Linked DNA regions of Homo sapiens. The protein of the gene in region 1 purifies or fractionates together with the protein of each later gene. This does not show direct contact. Each region holds a gene or a part of one and is shown on either strand. Other genes may lie near its edges. The genes, in order: CLCN4 and TMEM9.

Region 1 (16,035 bases):
ACAACTCAGGGAAACATGTTTAGCCATTTGTTATAAAGGATATTACCAAAGATACAGATGTACAGCCTGATGGAAGCGATGTGGAAGGTATGGAAGGCAAGGCACGGAGCTTCCATGCCCTTCCCTAGGCACCACCCTCCAGGAACCTCTGTGTATTCAGCTATCTGGAAGCCCACGGAAAACCCTGTCCTTTTGTGGGCTTTTGTTTGTTTGTTTGTTACTGAAGTTTTGTTTTTATTATACTTTAAGTTCTAGGGTACATGTGCACAATGTGCAGGTTTGTTACATATGTATACATGTGCCATGTTGGTGTGCTGCACCCGTTAACTCGTCATTTACATTAGGTATATCTCCTAATGCTATCTCTCCCCCCTCCCCCGACCCCACAACAGTCCCCGGAGTGTGATGTTCCCCACCCTGTGTCCATGTGTTCTCATTGTTAAATTCCCACCTATGAGTGAGAACATGTGGTGTTTGGTTTTTATGGAGGTTCCATTGCATAGGCATGATTGATTACATCATTGACCACTGGTGATAAACTCAAGCTTCAGCCCCTCTCCCCTCCCCGGAGGTCAAGGAGGTGGGGTTAAAAGTCCCCAATCTGTTATCTTGCCTTGGTCTTTCTGGTGACTGGTGACCAGCCCCTATCCTGAGGCTACCTAGGGCCCTCAGCTACCATCATCTCTTTCGCATACAAAAGACACTCATTACTCTGGATGTCTCAAAACAAACAAACAAAAAACCTTTTAGCCTGGGAATGGTGGCTAACACCTGTAATCCCAGCAGTTTGGGAGGCCAAGGCAGGTGGATCACCTGAGATCGGGAGTTTGAGACCAGCCTGACCAACATGGTGAAACCCTGTCTCCATTAAAATACAAAAATGTAGCCGGGCGTGGTGGTGGGCGCCTGTAATCCCAGCCACCTGGGAGGCTGAGGCAGGAGAATCACTTGAACCCTGGAGATGGAGGTTGCAGTGAGCTGAAATCATGCCACTGCACTGCAGCTTGGGCAACAGAGTGAAACTCTGTCTCAAAAACAAACAAACAAACAAAAGGCAAAAATAACTTTGAGCAATGCTACTGTGGCCAAATTTTACTTGTTGCAGTTGCTGTAGCAGAAAGAAGGCCTTTCCCTCCTGGCTACCTATGGGCACTCCCTGTCTTCTCTCTGGTCCACTCTTCCACAGTCCCCAACTTGAGCTAACTCCCACTTGTCCTTGGATAGCTTAACCATGACTTTCTCAAGGAGGCCGGAAGTGGTCTCCATCCCTGAAGAAATTTGGCCCCTCTGCTTTATGTACGTGTATGAGTTCGCTAGGCCTGCCGTAACCAAGTCCCACAGACTGGGTGGCTTCGACAACAGACATTGATTTTCTCACTGGAGGCTGGAAGTTCAAGATGAAGGCACTGGCAGGCTGGTTTCCCGAGGCCTCTCCCCTCAGCTTGCTGCCTCCTCACGTGGTCATCACTCTGCATGCATGACCCTGGGGTCTCCTTTTTTTTTTTTCATAGGGACACCAGTCAGATGGGACTAGGGCCCCACCCTAGCGGCCTGATGTGAAAACATAACCACTTCTTTAAAGAACTTATCTCCAAATATAGTCACATTCTGAGGTACTGGGGAGTTGAGACTTCAACATATGAATTTGGGAGTACATAATTCAACCCCTAGCGGTATTTTTCCACATCACTCAACACTTCTCTCATCAGGGATTCCCCACTCTTGATTGGGAAGACCTGTTTCATGACTGTCTTCCCCATGGACTGTAAGAGGGACTCAGCAGAGGGACACAGTCACTCCCGAGCGTGGCTGACCCTCGGGCCTTGCATTCTGCCTGGTGCAGACGGAGGGCTCCGTAAATAGGAATCGGATGAATCAATGAGCCAAGGCTCTGTTCGTTTCCAATGGCTGCTGTACTTAGCGGCTTAAAACAACACATATTCATCCTTTTCCTTTTCTGGAGGGTAGAAGTCTAAACTGGGTGTGAATGGGCTAAAATCAAGTGCCAGCAGGGCTGTGTTCCTTCCATAGGCTAGTGGAGAGATTCTGTTTCCTGGCCTCTTCCAGCTTCTAGAGGCCACTTGCATTTGTTCGCTTATGGCCCTATCCTCCATCTTCAAGGCCAGCAGTGTAGCAGCTTCAAATCTCCCTCTCTGATCTCTGCTTCCATTGCCAATCTTCTCTGACTCTGACCCTCCTGCCTCCCTTTTATAATGATCCTTGTGACGACACTGGGCCCACTGGGGCCACCCAGGATCATCTCCCCACGATCTTAGGATCCCTAATCTAATCACATCTGCAAAATCTCTTTTGTCACGTAAAGCAACATCTTCACAGGTCCTGGGAATAAGGGGGTGAACATCTTTGGGGAGGTCATTCTCCAGCCCACCCTAGAAGCACTGAGCTTTGAAGGGCCGGTTCCTGTATTCAGTATGTATGTACTCCGGCATGCATCTCAAGTTTTGCTTTGGAACAAGTGATCAGACGCTCCCCTCTTAGAAGATTCCCAGGCTCCTGGTGAAGTCCAACGGCAGAGGCTGCACATTCAGTGGCATTTGGAAGCATCTTGTCTGAGACCTGTGGCTAGAGGCACACGGCCTTCTGGAATCTGTGCCTTTCCATTGTTCCCACTAACAGACGCTCTGGCCAGATTGCTGTTTCTACCCTGCAATTACAGGCAGAATCCCATGAGTAATAAACACAAATTGTTTTATTGCAATGGAGTTCGTTTAAAAGAAATATTTTACTGCATCATCCAATAGAATTATCTGCAATGATGGAATTGTTTTATATCTGCGCTAAAATACCGTAGTGACAAGCCACATGTAGCTCTTGAGCATCTGACATGTGGCTAGTGTGACTGAGGGACTGAATTGGAACTTTTAAGTTAAATTCATTTTCATGTAAATAGTAACTGTGTCTAGTGGCTACCATAGAGCAGTGCAATTCTAGAAAAATCCCATTTCCAACCCAAGGCACCTGGACAAGGAGCAGCTTTTCTCAGAGGCCAGGTCCTGGGTGAGAAAAGCTGTTCACTGTCCAGGTGCAATAAGATAACTGACTTCTGTCTGTGCGTGGTGGAGATGCTGTCCAATGATGGCTATCGTGCATCAGTTTCCAGCTCCCCATTCAGTAGTTCGAAGCAAGGCATGGCAGGAGAATTTACACCAGGAGAATCAGCACAAGCTACAAATCAAGCCTCCCTCCCCATGCCCCACCCTTGGAGAGCTGGGTTATTTAACGATGACTGACATGCCACTGTGCATATGCCTACTGGAGGAGACAGGCCTACTGAATTGCCTTGGCAACATCTGAGTCTCCTGGCACTCACAGAGAAAAAGGAGACAGTGGCAGCTCCACAGTTCTTATTGTCAGAGAGGAAAAGCACCATATGGTTTTTTTAAGGGATGGCAACACTTCTCTTAGGCCTTAGAGCTACACGGGCTCTTTTCTCAGGCTTCCCAGCACAGACAATGTCCTTGACAACAACTCCACTCCACTGCAAAAGCAGAGGGATTTCAAAGCTGTTGTTTGTCACGTCAGTCAAGGCTGTCACTTTGGATCGATGTCAGGGCAATGGGGTCTGAGTTTGCAGCTTTTGGATGTCTGCTGAGATCTGTGAACACAGCCCAGAATGCCTAGAAAAGGCTGGATTGCATATTCTTATATCCCATGTCACTTACTTATTCCCCAAATCTTTTAGGATGCTGGCCATGTGCATAGCCCCCAGCTAGGTATGGAAGCAACTCATTCATTCATTCATTCATTCATTGGAGATGGTGTATTCAGGTGTAAAGGAGTTCAGGATACAAAGATAGATGAAATAGGGTCTTCACCTCCAGGTTTTATAAGATCCCCCATTTATAGAATAATTTACCAGATACTCAGGGCTGGAATTTGGAGGAGGTGAGGGAGGCACTTACCTTGGGTGCAAAACGTAAGAGGGCACCACAAAAATCAGTAATCAAGATAATATACTGGCCAGGCACGGTGACTCACGCCTGTAATCCCACCACTTTGGGAGGCTGAGGTGGGTGGATCACCTGAGGTCGGGAGTTTGAGACCAGCCTGGCCAACATGGCAAAACCCCGTCTCTACTAAAAATACAAAAATTAGCCAGGTGTGGTGGTAGGCACCTGTAATCCCAGCTACTCAGGAGGCTGAGGCAGGAGAATTGTTTGAACCTGGGAGATGGAGGTTGCAGTGAGGCAAGATCATGCCACTGCACTCCAGCCTGGGCGACGAGAGCAAAACCCCATCTCAAAAAAAAAAAAAAAAATATATATATATGTATATACACACACACATATATATGTATATATATACACACACACATATATATGTACATATATATGTACATATATAATTTATAAAATCAAAATTAGTGCAGAAAATTACAATGTACAAGATATGAACATTTTAAATAAGGACAGGCTGTTGTGGTTTGTTTCACTCCCCTTCAGTGTTGGGCAAGGGAGCATAGTCAATTCCAATCAGCGAGGGGTTACTTGGCCAGGAGGTATCTGAAGGGGAGGTTTATGTGGGTGCAAATAAATTGGGCCACGGGGAGCATTATACATAGTTTCTGTGCGTGTGTGTTTCGGTTGTAGGGTCTTTACTGACTTTTTTCACTTGGTTCAAAATACAAGAGGGTATCTTGATCACTGTATTTAGGGGTACACAACTTTTCTTGTGTCTCAAATTCTAATAATAAGGCACTGCTTGTGCTCTTTCCAGATCTCTCACTTACGTCTCACTCAGCTACAAGTGGTGGATACTATTACTCTTCCTCCTTCTCCTTGTTTTACAGAAGGGAAAAGTGGGGCTTGCAGAAGCTTGGCAAAATAGCACAGGCAGTAATACTGCAATACAGCCATGTAATACTTCAAGATGGTGTATGATTAAAGCGGTTGGCTGAGAACATTTGGGAAAATTTTAGTTCTGGTGTAACAAACTGTATCCCAGAGACAGTGCTATATGCTGGGCTTTCAAAGAGCAGGTAAATGCAGCTCCCCTCTGTCCTTCCAGGAGCTCAGGAGCTCAGGAGCTCAGGGGTTAATGCGAGTAAATAATTTGGGTCTAAGCTGGTGAGTGCTGTCCAGAGGGTCCCAGGAAGCTGTGGCTCCAAGAAGGGTGGAGGGGATGGTCAGAGGCGCCTGGGGAAGAAGCTGGGGTCCTGGCCAGAGAAGACCTAGCCTGACCCCAGGGTGCTCCAGCCTCCATCAGAACAGGAGGCTGATGTCAGGGCTGTCTCTGAGCCTGTCTGCAAAATGGGTGCACAGCAGATCTGCCCTACTCCTGTTAACCAGCTGCTGCGAGAATCAGATGACATGCTGCAGAGGAAGGCACTCTCTACAGGGTGCATGTGCTGAGGCGGGCGGATCAGTTGAGATCAGGAGTTCGAGACCATCCTGGGCAACATAGTGAAACCCCATCTCTACTAAAAATACAAAAATTAGCCAGGTGTGGTGGTGGGCGCCTGTAATCCCACCTACTCAGGAGACTGAGGCACAAGAAACGCTTGAACCCGGGAGGCGGAGGTTGTAGTGAGTTGAGATTGCACCACTGTAGCCTGGGCGACAAAGCAAGACTGTCTAAAAAAAAAAATATATATATATATATATATATAAAATATATATGTATAATATATAATATATATACAAACACACACACATATATATGGGGGCTTGGACACAAAGAGGCAATAGGGTCCTCACCTCTAGGTTTTGTAAAACCCACCATTTATAGAATAATTGAATAGTGAGTTTTAACAATTTAGTGGTGGGAAAATGTCTGTTTTAAAAATATACAGTGCATCCAAATCTATGAAAATTTCCCATCCACCTCTGTGCCAAGCCACACAGTTTTCCTCCCTAGAGATAACACCCTTAGCAGTTCCCGATGTCTCTTTTCAGAGGTGGTTTGTGGTGCACACACAGGTGGGCAATGACACGTCCCACATGCTGGGAGTACTACCTTTAAGGGATTTATAATGAAGAGAGCTTCCAGCACATCATACAATGGGGAACTCTTGAAAATGGCTGGGAAATGGAACATCTTGGGCATCAAATTATACTCCATCAGTAATTCAAACCAGGGTTTCTCGACTTCAGCACTATTGTACTGATATTTTGGGCCGAAATGTTCATTGTCCCGGGAGGTAGGAGTGGAGAGGGAGCTGTCCTGTGCACTGTAGGATGTTCAGCAGCAGCCCTGGCCTCTACCCACTCAATGCCAGGAGCACACGGCTCCTCCCACTTCAGTTGTGGCTGCCAAAAATGTCCCCTGGGGGAAAGGGAGCAACATCACCCCATTAAGAACCGCTGTTCTAAACCTTGTATGACATCTGTAGAAAACTGGCAGATAAGAGAAAAAATGTAGAAGATTCAAAGGGATAGGAAAGAGAAATCTGTGAAGACAATGGAAAGAGCCTGTAGTCCCAGTTACTTGGGAGGCTGAGGCAGGAGGATTGCTTGAGCCCAGGAATTTGAGGTTGCAGTGAGCCATGATCGTGCCACTGCACTCCAGCCTGGGAGACAGGGTGAGACCCTGTCTCGAATGAACAAAAAACTCAAAGGTTATTATTCCGTAACTATTGAAAGAATCTTTTCATGAAGGATGGTAATAACCAGCTTTCTATCTCCACACAGAGCAAAGTAAAAAGAAGTAGGTTTAAATGGAAGAGAAATTAAAACTGGACATACAGATGGTTAAATATTAACAACGGCCCCTGAATGGCACTTTCTTTCCTAAAGATCTTCATGAGCAGAATAATCTAGGATGGCTAGGGATTGTTCCCTCGGGACTTTGTGGTTAAGAATTCAGGATCTTCAAGTAATGAAATCTGCATTAAAAAATTAGCCAAAACTGTTTGTTTATTCCATAATCATGTCTATATGGTGCTTTTAAGAAAACAATTTTTTTGTTGCTATAAAAGCAATACATATTCACTGTGGAAAAATTAGACGATATCTCTAAGCTTAAAAGAAGAAAAATTTAAAACACCCTTAATCCCACTAACCAGTGAGATACCATGTTTGATACTTTAGTGAATTCATTTCCTAATAGTTTTCTGTGTTCGCAAAGGTATATGTGTAGATATAAATATATTACACCTACATAGAAACGACGGATCACTCAGCACATAATGCTTTGAAGCTTCCATTTTTTTTCCCATTTAATCCGCTGCACATGTCTTTTTCCATCCGTGTGTACCACCGTATTAGTTTTAATTCTTCCACTGCACAGATGGCTTATAATTTAAAACATCCCCTGTTTTTGGAGATTTAACTTGTTTCCAGTGCTTTGAGATCATAAGTAATATTGCAGCAAACTTTCCCTAGTCAGGGGTTTGCACACCGTTCTTCCCCCCACCCCCACTCCCCACACCCCAGGACAAATTCTTGGACATCAAGTTGCTGGAGCACATGATACCAACAGCTGTAGGGCCCGGAGTAATTGGCGAAACTGTGTATCTGTAAGGCATTTGGTAGGAAAAATGCTAAACAGACCACCAGAAAGATTGCTCAACTTACATTCCCATGGGTGGTATTGGTTTTTGCTTTTTTTGGTTTTGTTTTTTAATCTTGGCTAAAATGACAATTTGAAAGGCGAGGGTGGAGGGTGTTCAGACAGCTCTCTCATTCTGTTGAGAATTGCTTGGCCCAGTTCTGGGCCTTGTCTGAATTGCCGGTTTGCTGCAATGTTTTTTACAATTGAGCAATCACCTAGAAAAAAGAGAAGGTGAAACTAACCTACTGCAAAAAAACTGCTCCAGGATGAAGAAGGTTGCCTGTATTTCGTCATTTCAGCCAAGCCGGAATACGGAGCAAGGCTGTCTGCACCGTGCTACCATCCTCTTCAGGCTGCAGGGCATTTTGTATACCCACCACCTCCCATTGATGCTGGAAAATCCGGTCACAGAATTCCGTGCAGCCCAGCCCCTGAGGGTGGGGCGTCCTGTCTCCGGGACGCCGGGTTTTCTCTGGACACGAATGCTCCGGGGGTAGGAGGCGAATGACACTGGCACGGCGGGGCTCCGGAGCCAAGAGGTGACCAGGCTGGCTGGGCAGGGCTGAGTGGCTGGGCCGAGCACGTGATGCTCCCAGCCGGCCTCCGGGGCCCTCCGGGCTGAAATCGACATTTGCCTCTGGCAGGAAAATGAGCTTGTCAGTTTCTGCCTCCATTAGACCCTCAACCCAAAGGAGCAGGAGATTTCGGTAGCGTTTTAACTTTATCTCAGAATCTGAAAGCGGAAGGTAAGCTGCTTATCACTCAGAAAAACAAATTTGAGAGGAGTGACCTAGTAAAGTACACTGCGACTTTGTTGATTTTTAAAATCTGGTGTTGAAAATAATTGATCGCTGTGAGAGTCAAGGGCTGTATTTATCCCCAAATTAGAGATTAACCTTCTGAACAGAAATTTGGTTAATTTGGAGGGAATCACGGTATAAGGGCCAGGGTTAAATATAGAAGGACACGAAAGCTGATGGAATAAACTGCAAGTAAACTTAACTCTAGCCTGCTTGTAAAACAATCTATTTCATGTCTCCTTCAGGGCTGTGAGCAAAGGGAATGTTAAAATTGTGATTTTTAACTCAAGTGAAAGTAAATGAATCTATTTGCAATTGGAATACAAATAAAAGCAGTCTTTGCTTTTGTCCTTTTACATTTCAAAAACGCTTGTGTATTTTGGCAAAAGAAAAGTTTATATGTGCACTGCTTAAGTTTGAAATACGCTATTTCAAATTTACAAAATTATCACAGTTGTAATTTTCTAAAGTCTTTCTAGGCAAGGCTGTTTCAGTTGTGAATGAGAAATGTTGACATTGTACATATTTTCTGTGATAGTAAAATGACTCACTTCTTCAGAATGTGATAAAGATTAGAAAATGTGAAATAATGAGTTATTGTGAATTAAGTCATGTCTCAGAGATTAAATGCCTTGCCAGAAGATGTAAGAAAACAGAGACACAAATACAACCATGCTCACGTAGCAGTGCTTTATTTTAAATCATCACATATTTAAGTAAGTAGTAGAAATACGTGGTGTCACCATTTTTTCCTTTGGCAAATACAAATTAATATTGGAATGCAGCTATTCAGAGTAATTAAAGCATTATTCATCCGTGCAATTAGTATAATGTTCCATAATGAATTGCTTTGAACTAAAGTGTTTGGTATAATACTCGATATACGGCTTGAAACATAGAAACTCTAGGCAAAGTATGTCCATGCTATATTTTGTGTCATTTTGATTTGCACAAAATGTTTATTTCTCCACTGCATTTGATAAATACTAGTTTTAAAATAAAACATGAAATTGTATTTCCTTTCACTGTAATCCCTTTATTGCTAATTCTTTTGAAATCCTATTACTCGCTTGGAGCCTGTAATAATTTGGATTTCTCCTCCTGTGTGTTGTTTTTCATAATTCTTCGCGAAAGGCCAGGCAAGCTGCACACATCAAGCGAAACGCCTGAGGGGCGGCCAGCGCGAGGGTTTCTGGCCATCGACCCTCACCTCCCGGGACTTCCAGGGTCTTCCCCCCACCCCGCGCACACCTCCCTGCCTCGCCCCGAGGGCGTCACGTGGCAGCGTGGGGCCCGCCTCCTGGTGATGTCACGGCGCTCGCAGCCGTCGCGCTGAAGAAAGGATGCTCGAGGATGCTGTCCAGGTGGGCGGCCGCGGGCGCGATGCGGCACTGCAGGTAAGGGGCGCGCGGCGCCTGGATGCCCTCCCCGGCGCCCCCGGCAGCGCGGACGCTGCAGGTGGAGCCCGGCCCGCGGGCCTGCAGCCCGGCTGCGCCCCCAGAAACCCAAAGTGGGGCCTCTGGCTGCTGCGGCGCCTGCTGCCCACAGCTGCCTGCTGCAGCTGCATGCACCCGGCCGGGGATGGCCCGTGGCAGGCCCACGCGTGACTTGGGTCTTGGCGTGCCCGCCCCGAGAAAGCGGGCAGGGGCCAGACAGAAAGACGGGGGAGGGAAAAAACCGCTCCGGCGGGGGAACAAAATCTGAAGTGACCACACTGCATGCATTCTAAGTAGACAGAGGGGCTTTTAAGAGGTAACTATCAAGTGTTTTCCTAGTGTCATTCTGCTTCTTAAATAACGACATGTTTACTAATTACAGGCCTTTGTCCTCAGTAATTAGCCTCATTTCTTTCAAAGCAAAAGCGGGCTGGGGAGTGGAAACTTCTTGGTTAGCAATTTAAGAGCCAGATGTGCAATCTAAATTGCTTTGCATTATTTTGCAAGGTTCCAGCATTTACAGGGCATACGTCAGAAACGTATTTTTTTTTTCCTTCCAGGTGTTTTAAGTAGATTAAAAAAGAACGGTATCCAATACAATAAAAATAAATTGCAGCTTCCAAAGATAACATGTGAGCGTAAGAGACAGCTACATCTCTAAGAACCAAATGATCTTTAGCAGAGAGTGGGGGTGGAGATAACACCAAAACCTAAGAATTCCCAGAGTTCTTGTTAATTCTCTCGCTGATAATTCGCTTGCTGAATGGAGAGGCTTGATGACAGCGCCAGATGGAGGGGTCAGGTGACTTCAGTTCTAGCATGACAGTGGGTGGGGGATTTTAATGGACTGTTTCTAGAGCGTTTACATGCCTTTCTCGGGGTCAGGAAGAAACTACAGCCAGGACGTGTGGGGGCACCCTTAGGGGGAGAATGTGGCATTATTTTCCCCTCTAAAACCTGACCCTTCTGGAAGCTTTGTTGTCACTAAACTGTATTGGAACTCACATCATGAATAATTTGACCAACCAGCAACGTTGGGGGGCCTGTAAAGCAATGCTATTTCCATCAATAATTGAAGGAGGCATTTCTTTCAGAATTTGGGACACCCAGATGTGTTGCTGCAGTAATTTAGTAACTTGTTTATTGCAATTTTCTTCCTTTGGTTCAGTTTGGTTACACAAATTAAGATCCCCGGGTCCCCGCCCTCCCTTCTCCTCCAGCCCAACCCTAGATAGAGCAAAGCAGATGATAGAGGTGGATCTAATACAGACCTAGATTCCACTTTTGGCTTTGTGACTGTGCAGCCTTGGATATGTCATTTAGTGTCTTTGGGCCTCGACTATCTCGTCCTCAAAGTAACAAAGGGATTTAGGTCAGGGTGTCTCAACCTTGGCACTACTGGCATTTGGGGCCAGATAACTCCTTGTGGTGAGGCTGTCCTGTGCATTGTAGGATGTTTAGCAGAATCTCCGACCTCCACCTACTAGATGCTAGTAGCACTTCCCCCTCCCAGCCCCCAGTTGTGACAATCAAAAATGTTGCCAGACATTGCCAAATGTCCCCTGAGGGCTCCCTTGCCCCCTGTTGAGAACCACTGATTGAGATGATCTCGAAATATTCTTCTTCGGGCTCCAAGAATTCATTTTCTTATGATTGGTTTGATGCCAAGCCCTTGATCAGAAATCTGATTCCCTTTCTTAATATCACATATATTGGAAAACACAATGTGAAGGCGTTTTTATGCTGTGAATTTCCAGAAATAGCTTCTGTGAAAAGGGGAGGAGCTGTTTGTATGCCATTTGTAGCTGGGAGGCGAGCTTGGCAGAAAGGAGAGTGTTAGGGAAAGAGGAAAAAAACAGAGCACTAGATGAACGTGTGTGGAAACCTGCCGGGGCTTCGTGCTCAGCAGACCTGGAGCACGTCCCTGGACGTAGTCTAACCCTGGGTTAGACCTAACAGCTGAGAGTCCATTTCCTTGTCTGCAAAAATGAGAATAACAGTGTCCACTCGGAGGTGTTGTGAGGATGAAACGACACGACATCTGGTGCTGGTGGGGGACGTGGTGAGGACGAGAGGGTGGTAATGTCTATGCAGCTAGGAGGAGGCAAACACAAATGGCCCGCACCACCAGCGACACGGACACTCGCTTGGGCAGACATGGTCGCATGCTTTAAGCTTCAGTCCAGGACTAAAGATCTGGCTTTGACACCTAGGAGGGTGACCGTGGCTGCATCACTTCACCCTGCAGAGCTGCTGTCGGATCTGTAAAGTGGGGCCAACCGTGCTTGCTGACTCTGCTTCCTTGGCTGTTGGGGAGGGACGGATGGAAGTGAGAGGGTCTGCAGGCTGGGAAACTCCCAAGAGACAGGAAGCGGGGGTGGCAGCAGCATAGCAAGGGGGGGACATGTTTACTATGTGTGTGTATGTGGTGGTGGTGGGGTGCTTAGAATGGCCAGAAAACATTTCCTTGTGCCCCAGGCTTTGGACTTTGATGTGTCCCTCCCCTGGGTTCCCTTTCCGTTGCCATCAGCTTGCTCTCTCTCTCTCTCTCTCTCTCTCTCTCTCTCTCTCTGTCTGTCTCATCTTTCCTGGCACCATGAAAATGGTCTCCTGGGGGGAGATAGGAAAGCCCTGGTGGGGGAGGTTGGCCTTCGGTGAGGAAGACCCACTGTGCAGAGGGCTAGGGTGAGAGCAGCTGGCTCCATCCACTCCCCACGCCACTGTCCTCACAGGCTTCAGTCCACGGACATCCCAGGGCAGGCCTGTCACGCTCCTGTGTGCCTCCAGTGGGCTTGGTGCTCTGTATGAGCCATCTGGCCTTGTCTCTTCAACAAGGTAATATCATGAAAGAAATTTTTAAAAAGGGAGGTGGGGTATTCTCCATCAAACGAGACTTAAGAGACGGAATAGCCAAATATCACTTGTGGCCCTCGATTGGATTCGGCCCAAACAAACGTGTAACAGGCATTTTGGGGATGCCTGGAGATGCTTTGATGTGACTGGCTATTAGGTGACACTAGGAGACTGCTGCTGCTTTGATTAGATGTGACAGTCTGTGATGTGTTCGGCAGCCCCTCGGACAGATGCAGTGATCCCCACCCCTGGCAGCTGCAACTTGGCATCACCCTCTCCCCTGGGGTTTGGTCTGGACCAAGTAATGAACTTCCAATGAATACGTCTAGCAAGGGGTGGGGGAGAGGCACTTCCACCATGAGGGTGTAAAGGGGCTTCTGCCTGGGGTGTGTTTTCTCTCTTGGGTTGCTTACACTGAAGCTGCCATGTCGTGATCAGCCCTACAAAAGGGTCCATCTGCCGTGGTGAGGACCCGAGGTCCATTCCAACAGCCTGAGAAGAACTGAGACCCGCTGACGGTGTGAGGGTGTGAGCGGGCTCGGAGGCAGACCCTTCAGGCCCAGTTGAGTCTTTTTTTTTTTTTTTTTTTTTTGAGACAGAGTCTCGGTCTGTCACCCAGGCTGCAGTGCAGTGGTAGCGATCTCAGCTCACTGCAACCTCCGCCTCCTGGGTTCAAGCGATTGTCATGCTTCAGCCTCCCTAGTAGCTAGGAATACAGGGACACGCCACCACGGCTGGCTAATTTTTGTATTTTTAGTAGAGATGGGATTTTGCCATGTTGGACAGGCTGGTCTCGAACTCCTGACCTCAGGTGATCCGCCCACCTTGGCCTCCCAAAGTGCTGGGATTACAGGCATGAGCCACCACGCCTGGCCGCAGTTGAGTCTTGAGATGCTTGCAGCCCTGTGAGACACCTTGAGCTGAGGCACCAGCTAAGCCACTCCAGGGTTCCTGACACAGAAACAGTGACATGATAGATGTTTGTGTCCTGCTGCTATGCTTTGGGGTAAGTTGTTAGGCAGCAATAGATAGCTAATACATGTGTTTATGTAGAAAAGTCTTCTTGTTTAGAGATGTATACTAAAGTGTTTAGAGATGAAGTGTCATGGTAGCAGTCATTTACTTTTTTTCTTTTTTTGATGTTTTCTTGAGATCTCTTTAATGTATGACTTAATAGGAGACAGATGAATTCTCATACTTGGTTCTACATTCAATCTGTTTCAATATCGCATGTCATGTAGCCTCTGGAAAATTCCATTGTATGCTCATGAGAGAATGAACTTAGAAAAAGGCAAATAACAATGTCAGAATATTGTGAAATGTTTTTGACATCATGGACTCCCTTAAAGGGACTTGGGGAGCCCAAGGAGTCCCCAGATGACACTTTGAAGATCAGGCTTCAAGATCAATAATTTACTTTTAAATGGTTCAGTTAAATGAAGAGAGAGAAAGAGATAAAGCAGATAGAGCCAAATGTGAACAACTGTTCAGTCTGATTGGTGTTATTCACTGGATTCTTCTGGATGATGTTCTGTGTAATTGAAAATGTTCATAATAAAAAATTAAGAAAAAAAGAAAAGAAATGTAAACCCTTAGACACACTGGGGATTCTGACTGAATAGGTCTGGGGGTGAAGCCCAGGGCTTAACCTGTGCTCCAGGTGCCCCCATCACATGGGCCAGAGGCCCCAGCCACTTTGCCCCAGAGGTCCTCGCCTTACCTGCCTCCTCTCCACCTGTCAGCCTTGCAGTAGCAGACCAAAGGGGTTTAGTGTGATGACGCATCTCTTCTACCAACCTGGGGGAAGAGGTGTGTGGGGACAGTCCCCCCTCCTATCCCTTCCCCCATACACACTTTCCCTTGGTAACAAGACCTTTGTTTAACCACATTTTCAGTGGGTGGCTTTTTTATGTGCAGGAATTTTTTTTTTTTTGTGATAAGTATTTTTTTAAATGACTTTCATTTCTTTTCTTTTTTTTTTTGAGATGGAATCTCTCTTTGTTGCCCAGGCCGGAGTGCAGTGGCTTGATCTCGGCTCACTGCAACCTTCATCTCCCAGGTTCAAGTGATTCTCCTGCCTCAGCCTCCTTGTAGCTGGGATTACAGGCACGCACCACCACGCCTGGCTAATTTTTGTATTTTTAGTAGAGACGAGTTTCACCATGTTATCCAGGCTGGTCTCGAACTCCTGACCTCAGGGGATGTGCCCGCCTCGGCCTCCCAAAGTGCTGGGATTATAGGCTTGAGCCACTGCTCCCGGCCCCTTAATTACTTCTTCATTCAGCAAATATTCCTTGGGTCTGTGCGTCTAGGCCAGGGTTTCTCAACCTTGACACTGTGGACGTTAGGGTCCAGATGATTCATTTTTATGGGGGGCTGTTCTGGGCAATGTAGGGTATTGAGCCGCATCCCTGGCCACCATCCACTAGATGCCAGTGGCACCCCATCTCCCAGTTGTAATAACAAAAAATGTCTCTAGACATGGCCAAATGTCCCCTGGGGGTCAGTATTGCCCCCAGTTGGTTGAGTCCTACAAGTCTAGGCAGTGGGATACATGTTAGGACCAAATGGACAAGGTTCCTGCCCTCACGGGACTGATTTGAGCTGAGGGAAGAGGAAGTAGCTGTTGGATAGGCTGTGTGTTGAGTGAAAGGATGGACAGCAAAGGATGCACAGCACTGGACTCCAAACGCTGGTCAGGGAGGGCAAGAAGGCCTCTCTGAGGGGTCGCACTTGAGCAGAGATCCGAATGGAGAGAGAGCCACTTGAGCACGGTGGGCTGAGTGCTCAGGGCTGAGGGAACAGCCAGTGCAAAGGCCCTGAGGCAGGGCAGGACAGGAAGCGTTTGCGGAAAGCAGGGAGATCGGCGTGTGCAAAGTAGAGCTACCCAGAGAGTAGGGGTGGGGACAGGTGCTCAGAGGGGCGCAGGGGGCAGGCCATCCTGGAACTGGCAGTTGTGGTGTCAACCCTGGATTGTCCTCAGTGTGATGGAAAGCCACTGGATGCTCCTGTGTCGGGGAGTGACATGTTGAGACTGGGTTAAAAGGACTGGCTGCTGTCAGGAGCAGAGTCAGAGGTGGGTGAGAAAGAAAGCAGGGCAGCCAGCAAGGAGGCTAGGAGGCGAGGCTGGAGGCCAGATGGGGAGTGGCCAGGGTGACCAGGTGAGTTGGACTGAGGAGCTAACCTCTTTAGCAGCAATGTTGTCCTAGGTGCCAGAGTGGGCCCTTGGTGATCAAAGAAGCCTGGCGTGGGAGGGTAGTGTGAACTACAGGGCAGGACATGGAGGCTGCAGACGTGTCCTCATGCATCCGGCTCAGTCGCAGCATCACCTTTGATGGGCGGTGGCCTCCCAGGGACAGCAGAGGAAATGGCCATGCACATTCCCACATGACACCTGAAAAGCTCTCTTTCCCGCTTCTTGTCGTGGCTGAAGT
Region 2 (7,913 bases), on another chromosome or scaffold:
TTTGATAGCTGAGGACAGCTCAGCTTCCTCCCTATCTGACTCTGCTGATCCCCTTCCCCTTTGCTTTCAGAACTGTTGCTGCCGTCAAAAGCATCCTCCCCTAATTACCACTTCTCTGCCTCTGAAGCTCCGGAGCCTCTGCATTTCCTGCAGGACCTGAACCTGATCTTTGGAGAGAATTAGAGCTGAGGGCCAGGCCCACACCCCCGTGGGGATTTCCTCCCTAGCTTTCCCTGCCTCTCATCTCCTGCCACACATCTCTTAAGGGATTAGTGCACTTCTCTAAGCCCAGAGCCGCCCAGTAAATGCAACTTTGCTTCTAATGCCCCAAGCTGGCACGGCTTCTGTCACCATGCAGCTGCTACGCTGGGGCGAAGGGGGGTGGTGAGGTGAGGGTAGGGTGGACAGAGAACAAGCTGGCAGTGAGGAGGCTGGGAGAGGGTTCATCATCATCCTCTCAGAGCTCTGAGGACTTCATCTTGTGAGTGCTCCTCTCTAAGCTGCGTTAGAGATGGACACTGCCTTCTGGGAGCCTCCCGCCCAGGTCCTGAGGAAGGCTTCCTGTGCCAGGCTAGGTGAGGCTCAGGCAACGCCTGAAAGGCACGTGTGGCCATGTCAGGCAGGGGGCATACTGAGCTTGGAATTAGGACCCCTGGGTTCTGTTCCTGGGCTGGGGATCACCTGCCCCTTCCAGCCTCAGCCTCCCCTAGGCTCGCGTCCCAGGTGGAACTACAGATCCACAGCGGGGGCTGGGAAGGAGACATGGCCTCAGTCACTTATGAGGCTATGTGTCCCTGAACAAGTTACTTTATTTCTCCAAGCTTCAATTTAATGTAGTAAATGTAGTCATTGAGACTTTTTTCTGCTATACGGTCATTAGGAATTATAGTTACCAAATTATCTAACACACACACACACACACACACACACACACACACACACACACACAGAGTGAAAAGAAGTTTCATAAAACAATACTTAGTGTAATGCATTCTGATATTCTTTGCTCTGTTCCATTCCATTTTTTTAAAAATCCTGGTCATGACTCACAGAATTCATTTCATGACCTAATGGCTTGCTTGAAATACACTGGTTTAAGATTAGTAGATGGGTATGGCAAAGTTAAATAACACACATATAAAGCACTTACTATCCTGGCTGTCACAGAGCTAGGGCTCAAGAAATGTTTGGTTTCTTTCTTCCCTAGGAGCGATGACTAATATCAGAGCCTAGCTCTGGAAGCCACTAGGCAGTAAGGCTGGCGGCTGGCTGCCAGGAGAAAGCCTGTGAAAACTGCCATGGCTGCTGCCCCTCCTTCCAGTTCCATGCCTTCCCTGTTCACTGTGCTGACTGAGCTGGCCACAGTGCTAAGACCAAGCCTCCACCCAGTCCTGCCTCAGTGTGGCCGTCTACATGAGGTGGGCACTAAAGACCCATCTGGGAAGCTATTGGCCCACCGGGACTTGGCTCTGGGGGCTGGATTGCCTTCTCTTCTTCTTTCCATTCCCAATCTCATCCTTTCTGGGACCATCTTTCTCATGACAGGGCTCCAGTGTGTGTGTGGGGTGGGGTGCTACGCTTGGAAGGGTGGGGCAGCTTTAGCCCTGCCCTCCTTCCACTGCTCTGTATCTCAGGGGAGCGTCTTGAGAAGGGGAAGCCAGGGAGAGCCCAGAGCACAGCATTAAGGGAACATGCTGAAATTCACCACATTACCACAGTATCATTTGTTTTCCCTTCATGTAAAGTCTTAACAAACAGCTCCTAAGTGGGGGAAAGCTGCCACTGAGAGGCTGAGTTTCCATCGCTAATAGTCTGATTAAAAGGTATTAAAGACTCCACATCTGTTTCAGAGACAGCCCAGAGTGGGGCCTCATCCTTGCTTGCTCTGCAGCAAGTATGGTGGGTGGAAGTGGGAGAAATGCCACCAGTTCCTCCCCTCTCCCTCTGAGGCTGGGCCTCCGGTTAACTCGGGAGCAGAAGGGCAGTTAGGAGGGGAGGCGGGTGGAGCCCCTCCCAATCAGAAAAAGAGCTTGGACATGGATGGATTCCCAGGAGGTCCCCAGGGGGACCAGACCAGTGTGACTATGACAAGTGCCACTATGTGCCAGGCGCTCTGCTAGGCACTTTACACAGATTATTCCCAGGCTTACAACACTGGCAAATGGGTAAAACCATCCCCTATTGTAGCTGCAGAAACTGAGGCTCTGAAAGATGAATCATCTTGCTGCCCAAGGCTGCATGGCTGTTTAGTGGCCAAGTCGGAATTTGAACCCATGTACGTATATCTCTTATCCTAGGACCCAGCTGGATCCTTCTTTGGCTGGTTTCTCCTAAGAGGGAGCCAGCATGGACAACCAAAGAGACAGGCTGGTATATTTCCCCACAGCTAGAGCAAGAACAGAGCACTTCTAAAGGAACCAATGCTCAGGACATCAAGCGAGGCCCTCTTCTCCACACTGGAAGGACCCAAGTAACTGTGTGGATAAGCCCCAGCTGATCAAACTAGCCCTGAGCCCTTCAGGCCGTCCCAGATGAAACCCTCTTCAGTCTGCCCAGAAGCACTGGTTCTGAGCTGGCACTGGACTTGGCCAAAGCCTGATGACAAGGAGACAGGGAGAGTGAGAACCCCACCTCAGGCGGCTCTCCTCTCTCTGGCTGCTCCTCCTCCCTCCTCCCCAATCCCAGGCACAGGAGCATGACCAGGTGGTCTCATCACTTACCAGCCACTCAGCAAAGCATGGTCCTAGTGCAAAGCCCTTCAGCAAGAGGACTATACAGCCTCTCTGAGTTTTCCATGTTTGACCCAAGTCCTTGCTGCTGTTGCTGAGTCCCACTGCACCTCTGCTGCGAGGCTCTCCCTGACCCCTGCACGCTGCGGCTAGGGCCACCTTCCTATGACACACCAACTCATGCTGTTTCCCTGCCCAAAAACCCCAGCTGGGACCCACCTGCTCACAAATAAAACCCTGCTGGGCCTGACATTCAAGGGCACTCCCAGCCTCACCTCCCCCCTTACCCCCCAGCCCAGCCTCTGGCCACACTGGTCCATGCATCCTCTGTCTACCTGCGGTGATCCTCACTCAGGCCCTTGTGCACGCTGCCCCTCAGGCTTCCCTCCAGCAATCATGATGCTACTTAAGTATTAACACCTGATTGAAATAGCGCATTCTTAAGGACGAGCAAACACTTGTAAAGCTTCCATACACACGATCGCAACAGTTATGCTGAGGTAAACATGATTATGTGTATTCCAGACTTAGAAAACTAAACCAGGAGGTTAGCACCAAGGATAGTAAATGGCAGGGCTCGGCCCCTCCCAGGACTGTGATTAACCACAATGCTGTGCTGCCCCACTGGAGGCTCTAGAAGCGTCTGTTGAACCGCACATCTTTCTATTCTGCCCTCAGGGGAGGAGGCCGACTGGATTGCCCTCATCAGTGTGTCTGTTCCGTGTTTCACTGTCAGCTTCCCAGGGCTGGGGTCCTCAGAACACAGCTGCCACCCATGTGCAGACAGGAGGGGAGACTGCTCCTCAGTGGCCCGAGTCTTCTCCCCGGTGCCTGCATGTTCCAGTTCCCATCATCATCATCACCTTTCCTTGATTTCCCTGTATACTCTCTCCCAAAGGGGGCCCAGAACTCTACCCACTGCCCCAGCAGGGTGAGCACTTTGAAGACCTCTCCAGAGCTTGGGCCCATGCTGTGAGCAGCGACATCCCCAGCCTCAGAGAAACCATGTGTCTCTCTTCAAAGAGGGCCCAACCTGCACATCTAAAACAGCTCTGTTTGCCGTTTCTGCCCCAGCAAACATGCTTGCTTCCTCCTTTCAAAGGACGTCTGAGCCCAGGGATTATGCCTAATGCTGCTGGAATCCCAGGGGAGGCAGCGCCCAGCAATCAGGGCCTACTGAGGCTCTGCCAGCGCTTTCAAAGGGAACATGACAAGCTTTCATCTCCCTCCATGAACGGGGCTGAGGCTGAGGGGGAGGCCTCCTCTTCCTCTTCCAGTTCTTTACCCCCTGGGCAGGAGAGCTCCTGGTCACAGGAATTGGGGAGAAGGAACCAAGGGGTCCCTAACCCTGAAAAAATGCCCTGACCTCCAGATCTCACCCCTAACTGGGTCCCAGACTTCTGGGGCGTAGGGCCTGAAAGCTCCTGGAGCCTAGACAGAATTTTCCTTCTAAAGTCATCGAGTTGTACAGGCCTAGGCGAACTTTCAAGGAACCCAAGAGGCCATGTCCTGACTTTGTTCCTCTTGGGGTGAAACCCAGAGACATGGCTACAGCCTAGGTGCTGCTGCCGCTCAGCTGAATGCCTGCCCCCCAGCCCCATGTTTCCCCACATCCCTTTCCTCTGTGCACTGAGAGGGGCAGTAGATTATCCCTCGTCGTCCAGGACTAGGGCCCCCAGTCTCTGTAAAGACAAGCTCCTTGGGTTCTGTCCAGCCCCAATGCCCTGTTCATCCTCCCTGCAGTTCAGCGGTCACTCTCCCAACCACCCTGAGTGGGCACTGAAAATCCCCCTCTGCCAGGAAGCCTTCCTTCCCAGACTAACACAACGAGAAGGGTAACTTTCCGACCCCTTGTCTAGTAAAGAGGGGCCTCCCAAGGCACCTGACTTTTCAGCTGACCACCCGTCTTACGAAGCCAGATCTTACTGCCAGCCTTTACGTTTCCTGCTGCTTTACCTGCTTTTGGCCGTCTTGGGGCTTAAACCCCCGAGGGCAGACATAAGGTCTGTGCAAATCTCAACACTGTGCCACCTGCAGGTTTTCTGAATACACTGAGAAAAGCAGAGTTGCTGAACCACAGACATCTGTGACCTGGAGACCACACAGAATCACAGGAGGTGAGGGGATAGAGAGATGATGCCAAAGAACGGGACTGGGGGCACTTCCTTACCCAGCCAAGGGCACCCAATGAGATCTACCTGCCCCAGGCCACAACCAGCGAGAGTTGGCTGCACCCTAGGTCAGGGTATCAAAGAGATTAAACACAACTTTTTATGAGCTTTTAGAACCTCAGGTGAGAGGTGAGGGCGTGTCATCCTGTCCATCCCAGGGCCGCAACTTCCCCTACAGGAGGGAGCATGGCTCGCCAGCTTCTATGTGCTGCAGCCTATCACAGCCTACTGTCCTCCCAGGCAGTCCTGCCACAGTTACCAAATCTAGCCCTTCTTCCTCCCAAGGCCCCCTCATACAAACAGGCTTCAAATGAGGAGCACTCCAGGTCTCCTGGGGGTAAGAGAGACCTGGGTTCATACCCAGGGACGGCAAGCTGCTCTCCCCAAGCTGCCCTCCCTCTGGCTCCCTGGCTAGGATGGCAGGAGACATAACAAGGCCATGCCCCAGAGCCATGCATTCCACGGAAATCATTGGGCTGCATCTCTCAATTACTACCCCAGCCAGGACTGCAATTACCACATTACCCCTAATCGCTGAGTGTTTATTAGCGATGCTCCTCCCCTATCAGAGCTGCTATTACTCTACATTAATAACCAGGTAGGCACACGAGGTTTCCTCTTGAACACAGACCACCCAACTGCCAGTGCCACCACCTCCCAGGCCCTAGCTCCAATGGGGCGAGGCTCATCCCCTCTGCTCCACCTTCGGCCAAACTCATGTCAGCAGGAGGCTGGGGGCAAACTGGGAGCAGTCCAGGCATGTGCGCAGGGTGGGGCAACACAGCCCTCGAGAGCAGCCAGGCTCCCTCCCTGATCTGCCCTTCTCTTCGCTGTTCATGCTGGCCCAGACCCACATCACCCAGGCAGCTTCACACTTAGACTTGAGCCCCTGGGTCCTCTTTTTGGTGAGGAACTGGCTCATGGTCTTGCAAGGGAGCCCAGCCCACCTACCCCATAGTTAGACCACGCTGTCTACAGGAAGACTCCCAGCCTCCTCCTCATATTGTGTTAAATCTCTCTGTCCCTGGATGAAGCCAAGCTGTCTTCTACAAACTTCTGAAGGCAGCTATCATGCGTCTCCTTTAGTTGTTTTTCTTTTCCTTTAAGCTAAATGACTCTCAGTTTCTTCAACTAATTCTCTGAGGCCTAGCTGAGGCGCTTCCCGACTAGATATTCCTTATGCATACGCATGAGTTCACTCAGGGCATCCCTCCATCAGTCAATAAACAGGAGTATCTTCCAGCAGCAAGGCCCTGGGGACAGAGCTCAGAGTGGAAGCAGCAGCCAACCCCGCCTGCCTTGGCTCCACGCCTCTAAGCAGCCCGCTCTGCTGTCTCATGCACCCAGCTAGCTGGTACATGAGCGCATAAAGGGGGAGCCCGAGGCACACGGGGCTGTGCAGTCCTCACTCAGGCAAGATTCCCCTAGACCACCTGGGGAGTGCAGGGCTCATCACAACTCTGCTCAGCATGGAGGTACACCACGTCTCACTCCCACGAAGAGCCCTTCACCTGAGCCCTCCTGTCCCCCCGGGTTTCCTCGCCATGGTGTCCACAACTTTTTAGTATGAGGATGAATGGGAAGACGGTGACAGCGCTTGTTAACTGCACTGGGCCTGGTCCAAGCCCTGCCAGCTCCCCACCATTGCATGAACTCCTGGAGGCCTTGCAGGCTGTCTGGGGTCAGTGGTTCCCCACTTTCCTTGTCAGATAAAGCCAAACCCCCTTAGCTTGACATTTGGGACTTTTAATAATGTGACCTAAATCTACTGGCCAGCTCTCTTTGCCACTATTCAAACATCTCTACCCTATCCTTGCAACGCTCAAAATTCCTCACACATACTTGGCAATGTCCCCTGCCCGGCACCACTGTCTCATTCCTCTTCCGCTCTTGAAATCCTACATTTCTCCCCAGACCCTGGAGCTCTGGTTTGCATTGAGCAAGTGTTCAACAGATGTTTGTGGAATCACTGGACAAACAAATTAACCTGCTGCCGTCCAGTCCACCAGCAGCTTGTCACCAATGTCTGAGCACACGGGGGATATCATGTGTATCTATGTGTGACTGGCTCTGGCTGGCTGCGCCCCCTCTGCCTGGAAGCACAGTACAGCAGGATGACATGGCTCCCCCGGCTTGTACATGGAGACTGCTTGATGCCCGGTGTCCTGCTTCATCTGGAAGGGCAAAGAGCAGGTCCCTGCTGAGTCTGGGTGATGTGTACGACACTGACCAGAAGAGCAACTTGAAGCATTTTGGGGAGGTGGGACCTGGACCTAGGTGACGCTCCTCTGGGTTTTGCCCTGGGGACGCACATGCAGGGACCCAGGGCCTGGGCACTCAAAGCCCTCTTACCTCATTCTCCTCCTCATTGTGCAGTTGCTCAGTATATGCATCCGGCTTTCGGATCAGAGGGTCCACCAGCATCAGGAAGGCCATGTAGAGCAACAGGGCACCCACCACGGACAGGTAGATGACAATGATGACCTGAGGAAGAGACCGGCGTGCCTATGAACCATTATCTGAGGCCAGGGCTAGAAATCCGTTGCTAGTCTTGGGCCATCTGTGTCCGGCTGGCAGTGACTCCTCAAGTGGTGCACTAAGAAAGGACTTGGAGGCAACGTGGGCTCAGAGGGAAAGCATGCCCAGAAAGGAAAGGGAGGGCCCTACTCCACAGAGGAAGCACTCTGTCCTAACTTGAGGGAGTCTGCACAGCAGGCATCACGACAGCAGGCAGATGACAGAGGAAGAAGTCTGGAGCCTGATGCCGAGAGGCTCCCGGGGTAGAGATGGGAACACAAGGGCCTCCCTGGCTGTAGAAGAGTTCATGATGAAGGGTGGAAAGCAATCAGAAACTAAGAGCAAGGAAGAACAGGCTGTGGAGAGGCTGGAAAGCTGGGGCCAGGAAAAGTAAACCTGGGCTGGTGGGCTCATTGCTCCTGTGGAGAGCAAGACGGATGGGGCGCGCTGGCCCACTCATGGCATGCCCCTGAGCAGAGTGGCTAGGGCTGGTAAG

Evidence for each region.
Region 2: the proteins of CLCN4 (region 1) and TMEM9 purify together in Homo sapiens (co-immunoprecipitation; 3 studies listed by BioGRID and IntAct, with this or other methods). This does not show direct contact.

What each region holds. Positions count from the first base shown.
Region 1 is NC_000023.11:10,148,843-10,164,877, forward strand, and holds the start of CLCN4 (H(+)/Cl(-) exchange transporter 4), read left to right. Parts: upstream 1-8,132; 5' UTR 8,133-8,258; intron 8,259-9,446; 5' UTR 9,447-9,709; intron 9,710-16,035. UniProt on the Homo sapiens protein: Strongly outwardly rectifying, electrogenic H(+)/Cl(-)exchanger which mediates the exchange of chloride ions against protons.
Region 2 is NC_000001.11:201,136,568-201,144,480, forward strand, and holds part of TMEM9 (proton-transporting V-type ATPase complex assembly regulator TMEM9 isoform a precursor), read right to left. Parts: intron 7,385-7,913; coding exon 7,253-7,384; intron 1-7,252. UniProt on the Homo sapiens protein: Transmembrane protein that binds to and facilitates the assembly of lysosomal proton-transporting V-type ATPase (v-ATPase), resulting in enhanced lysosomal acidification and trafficking.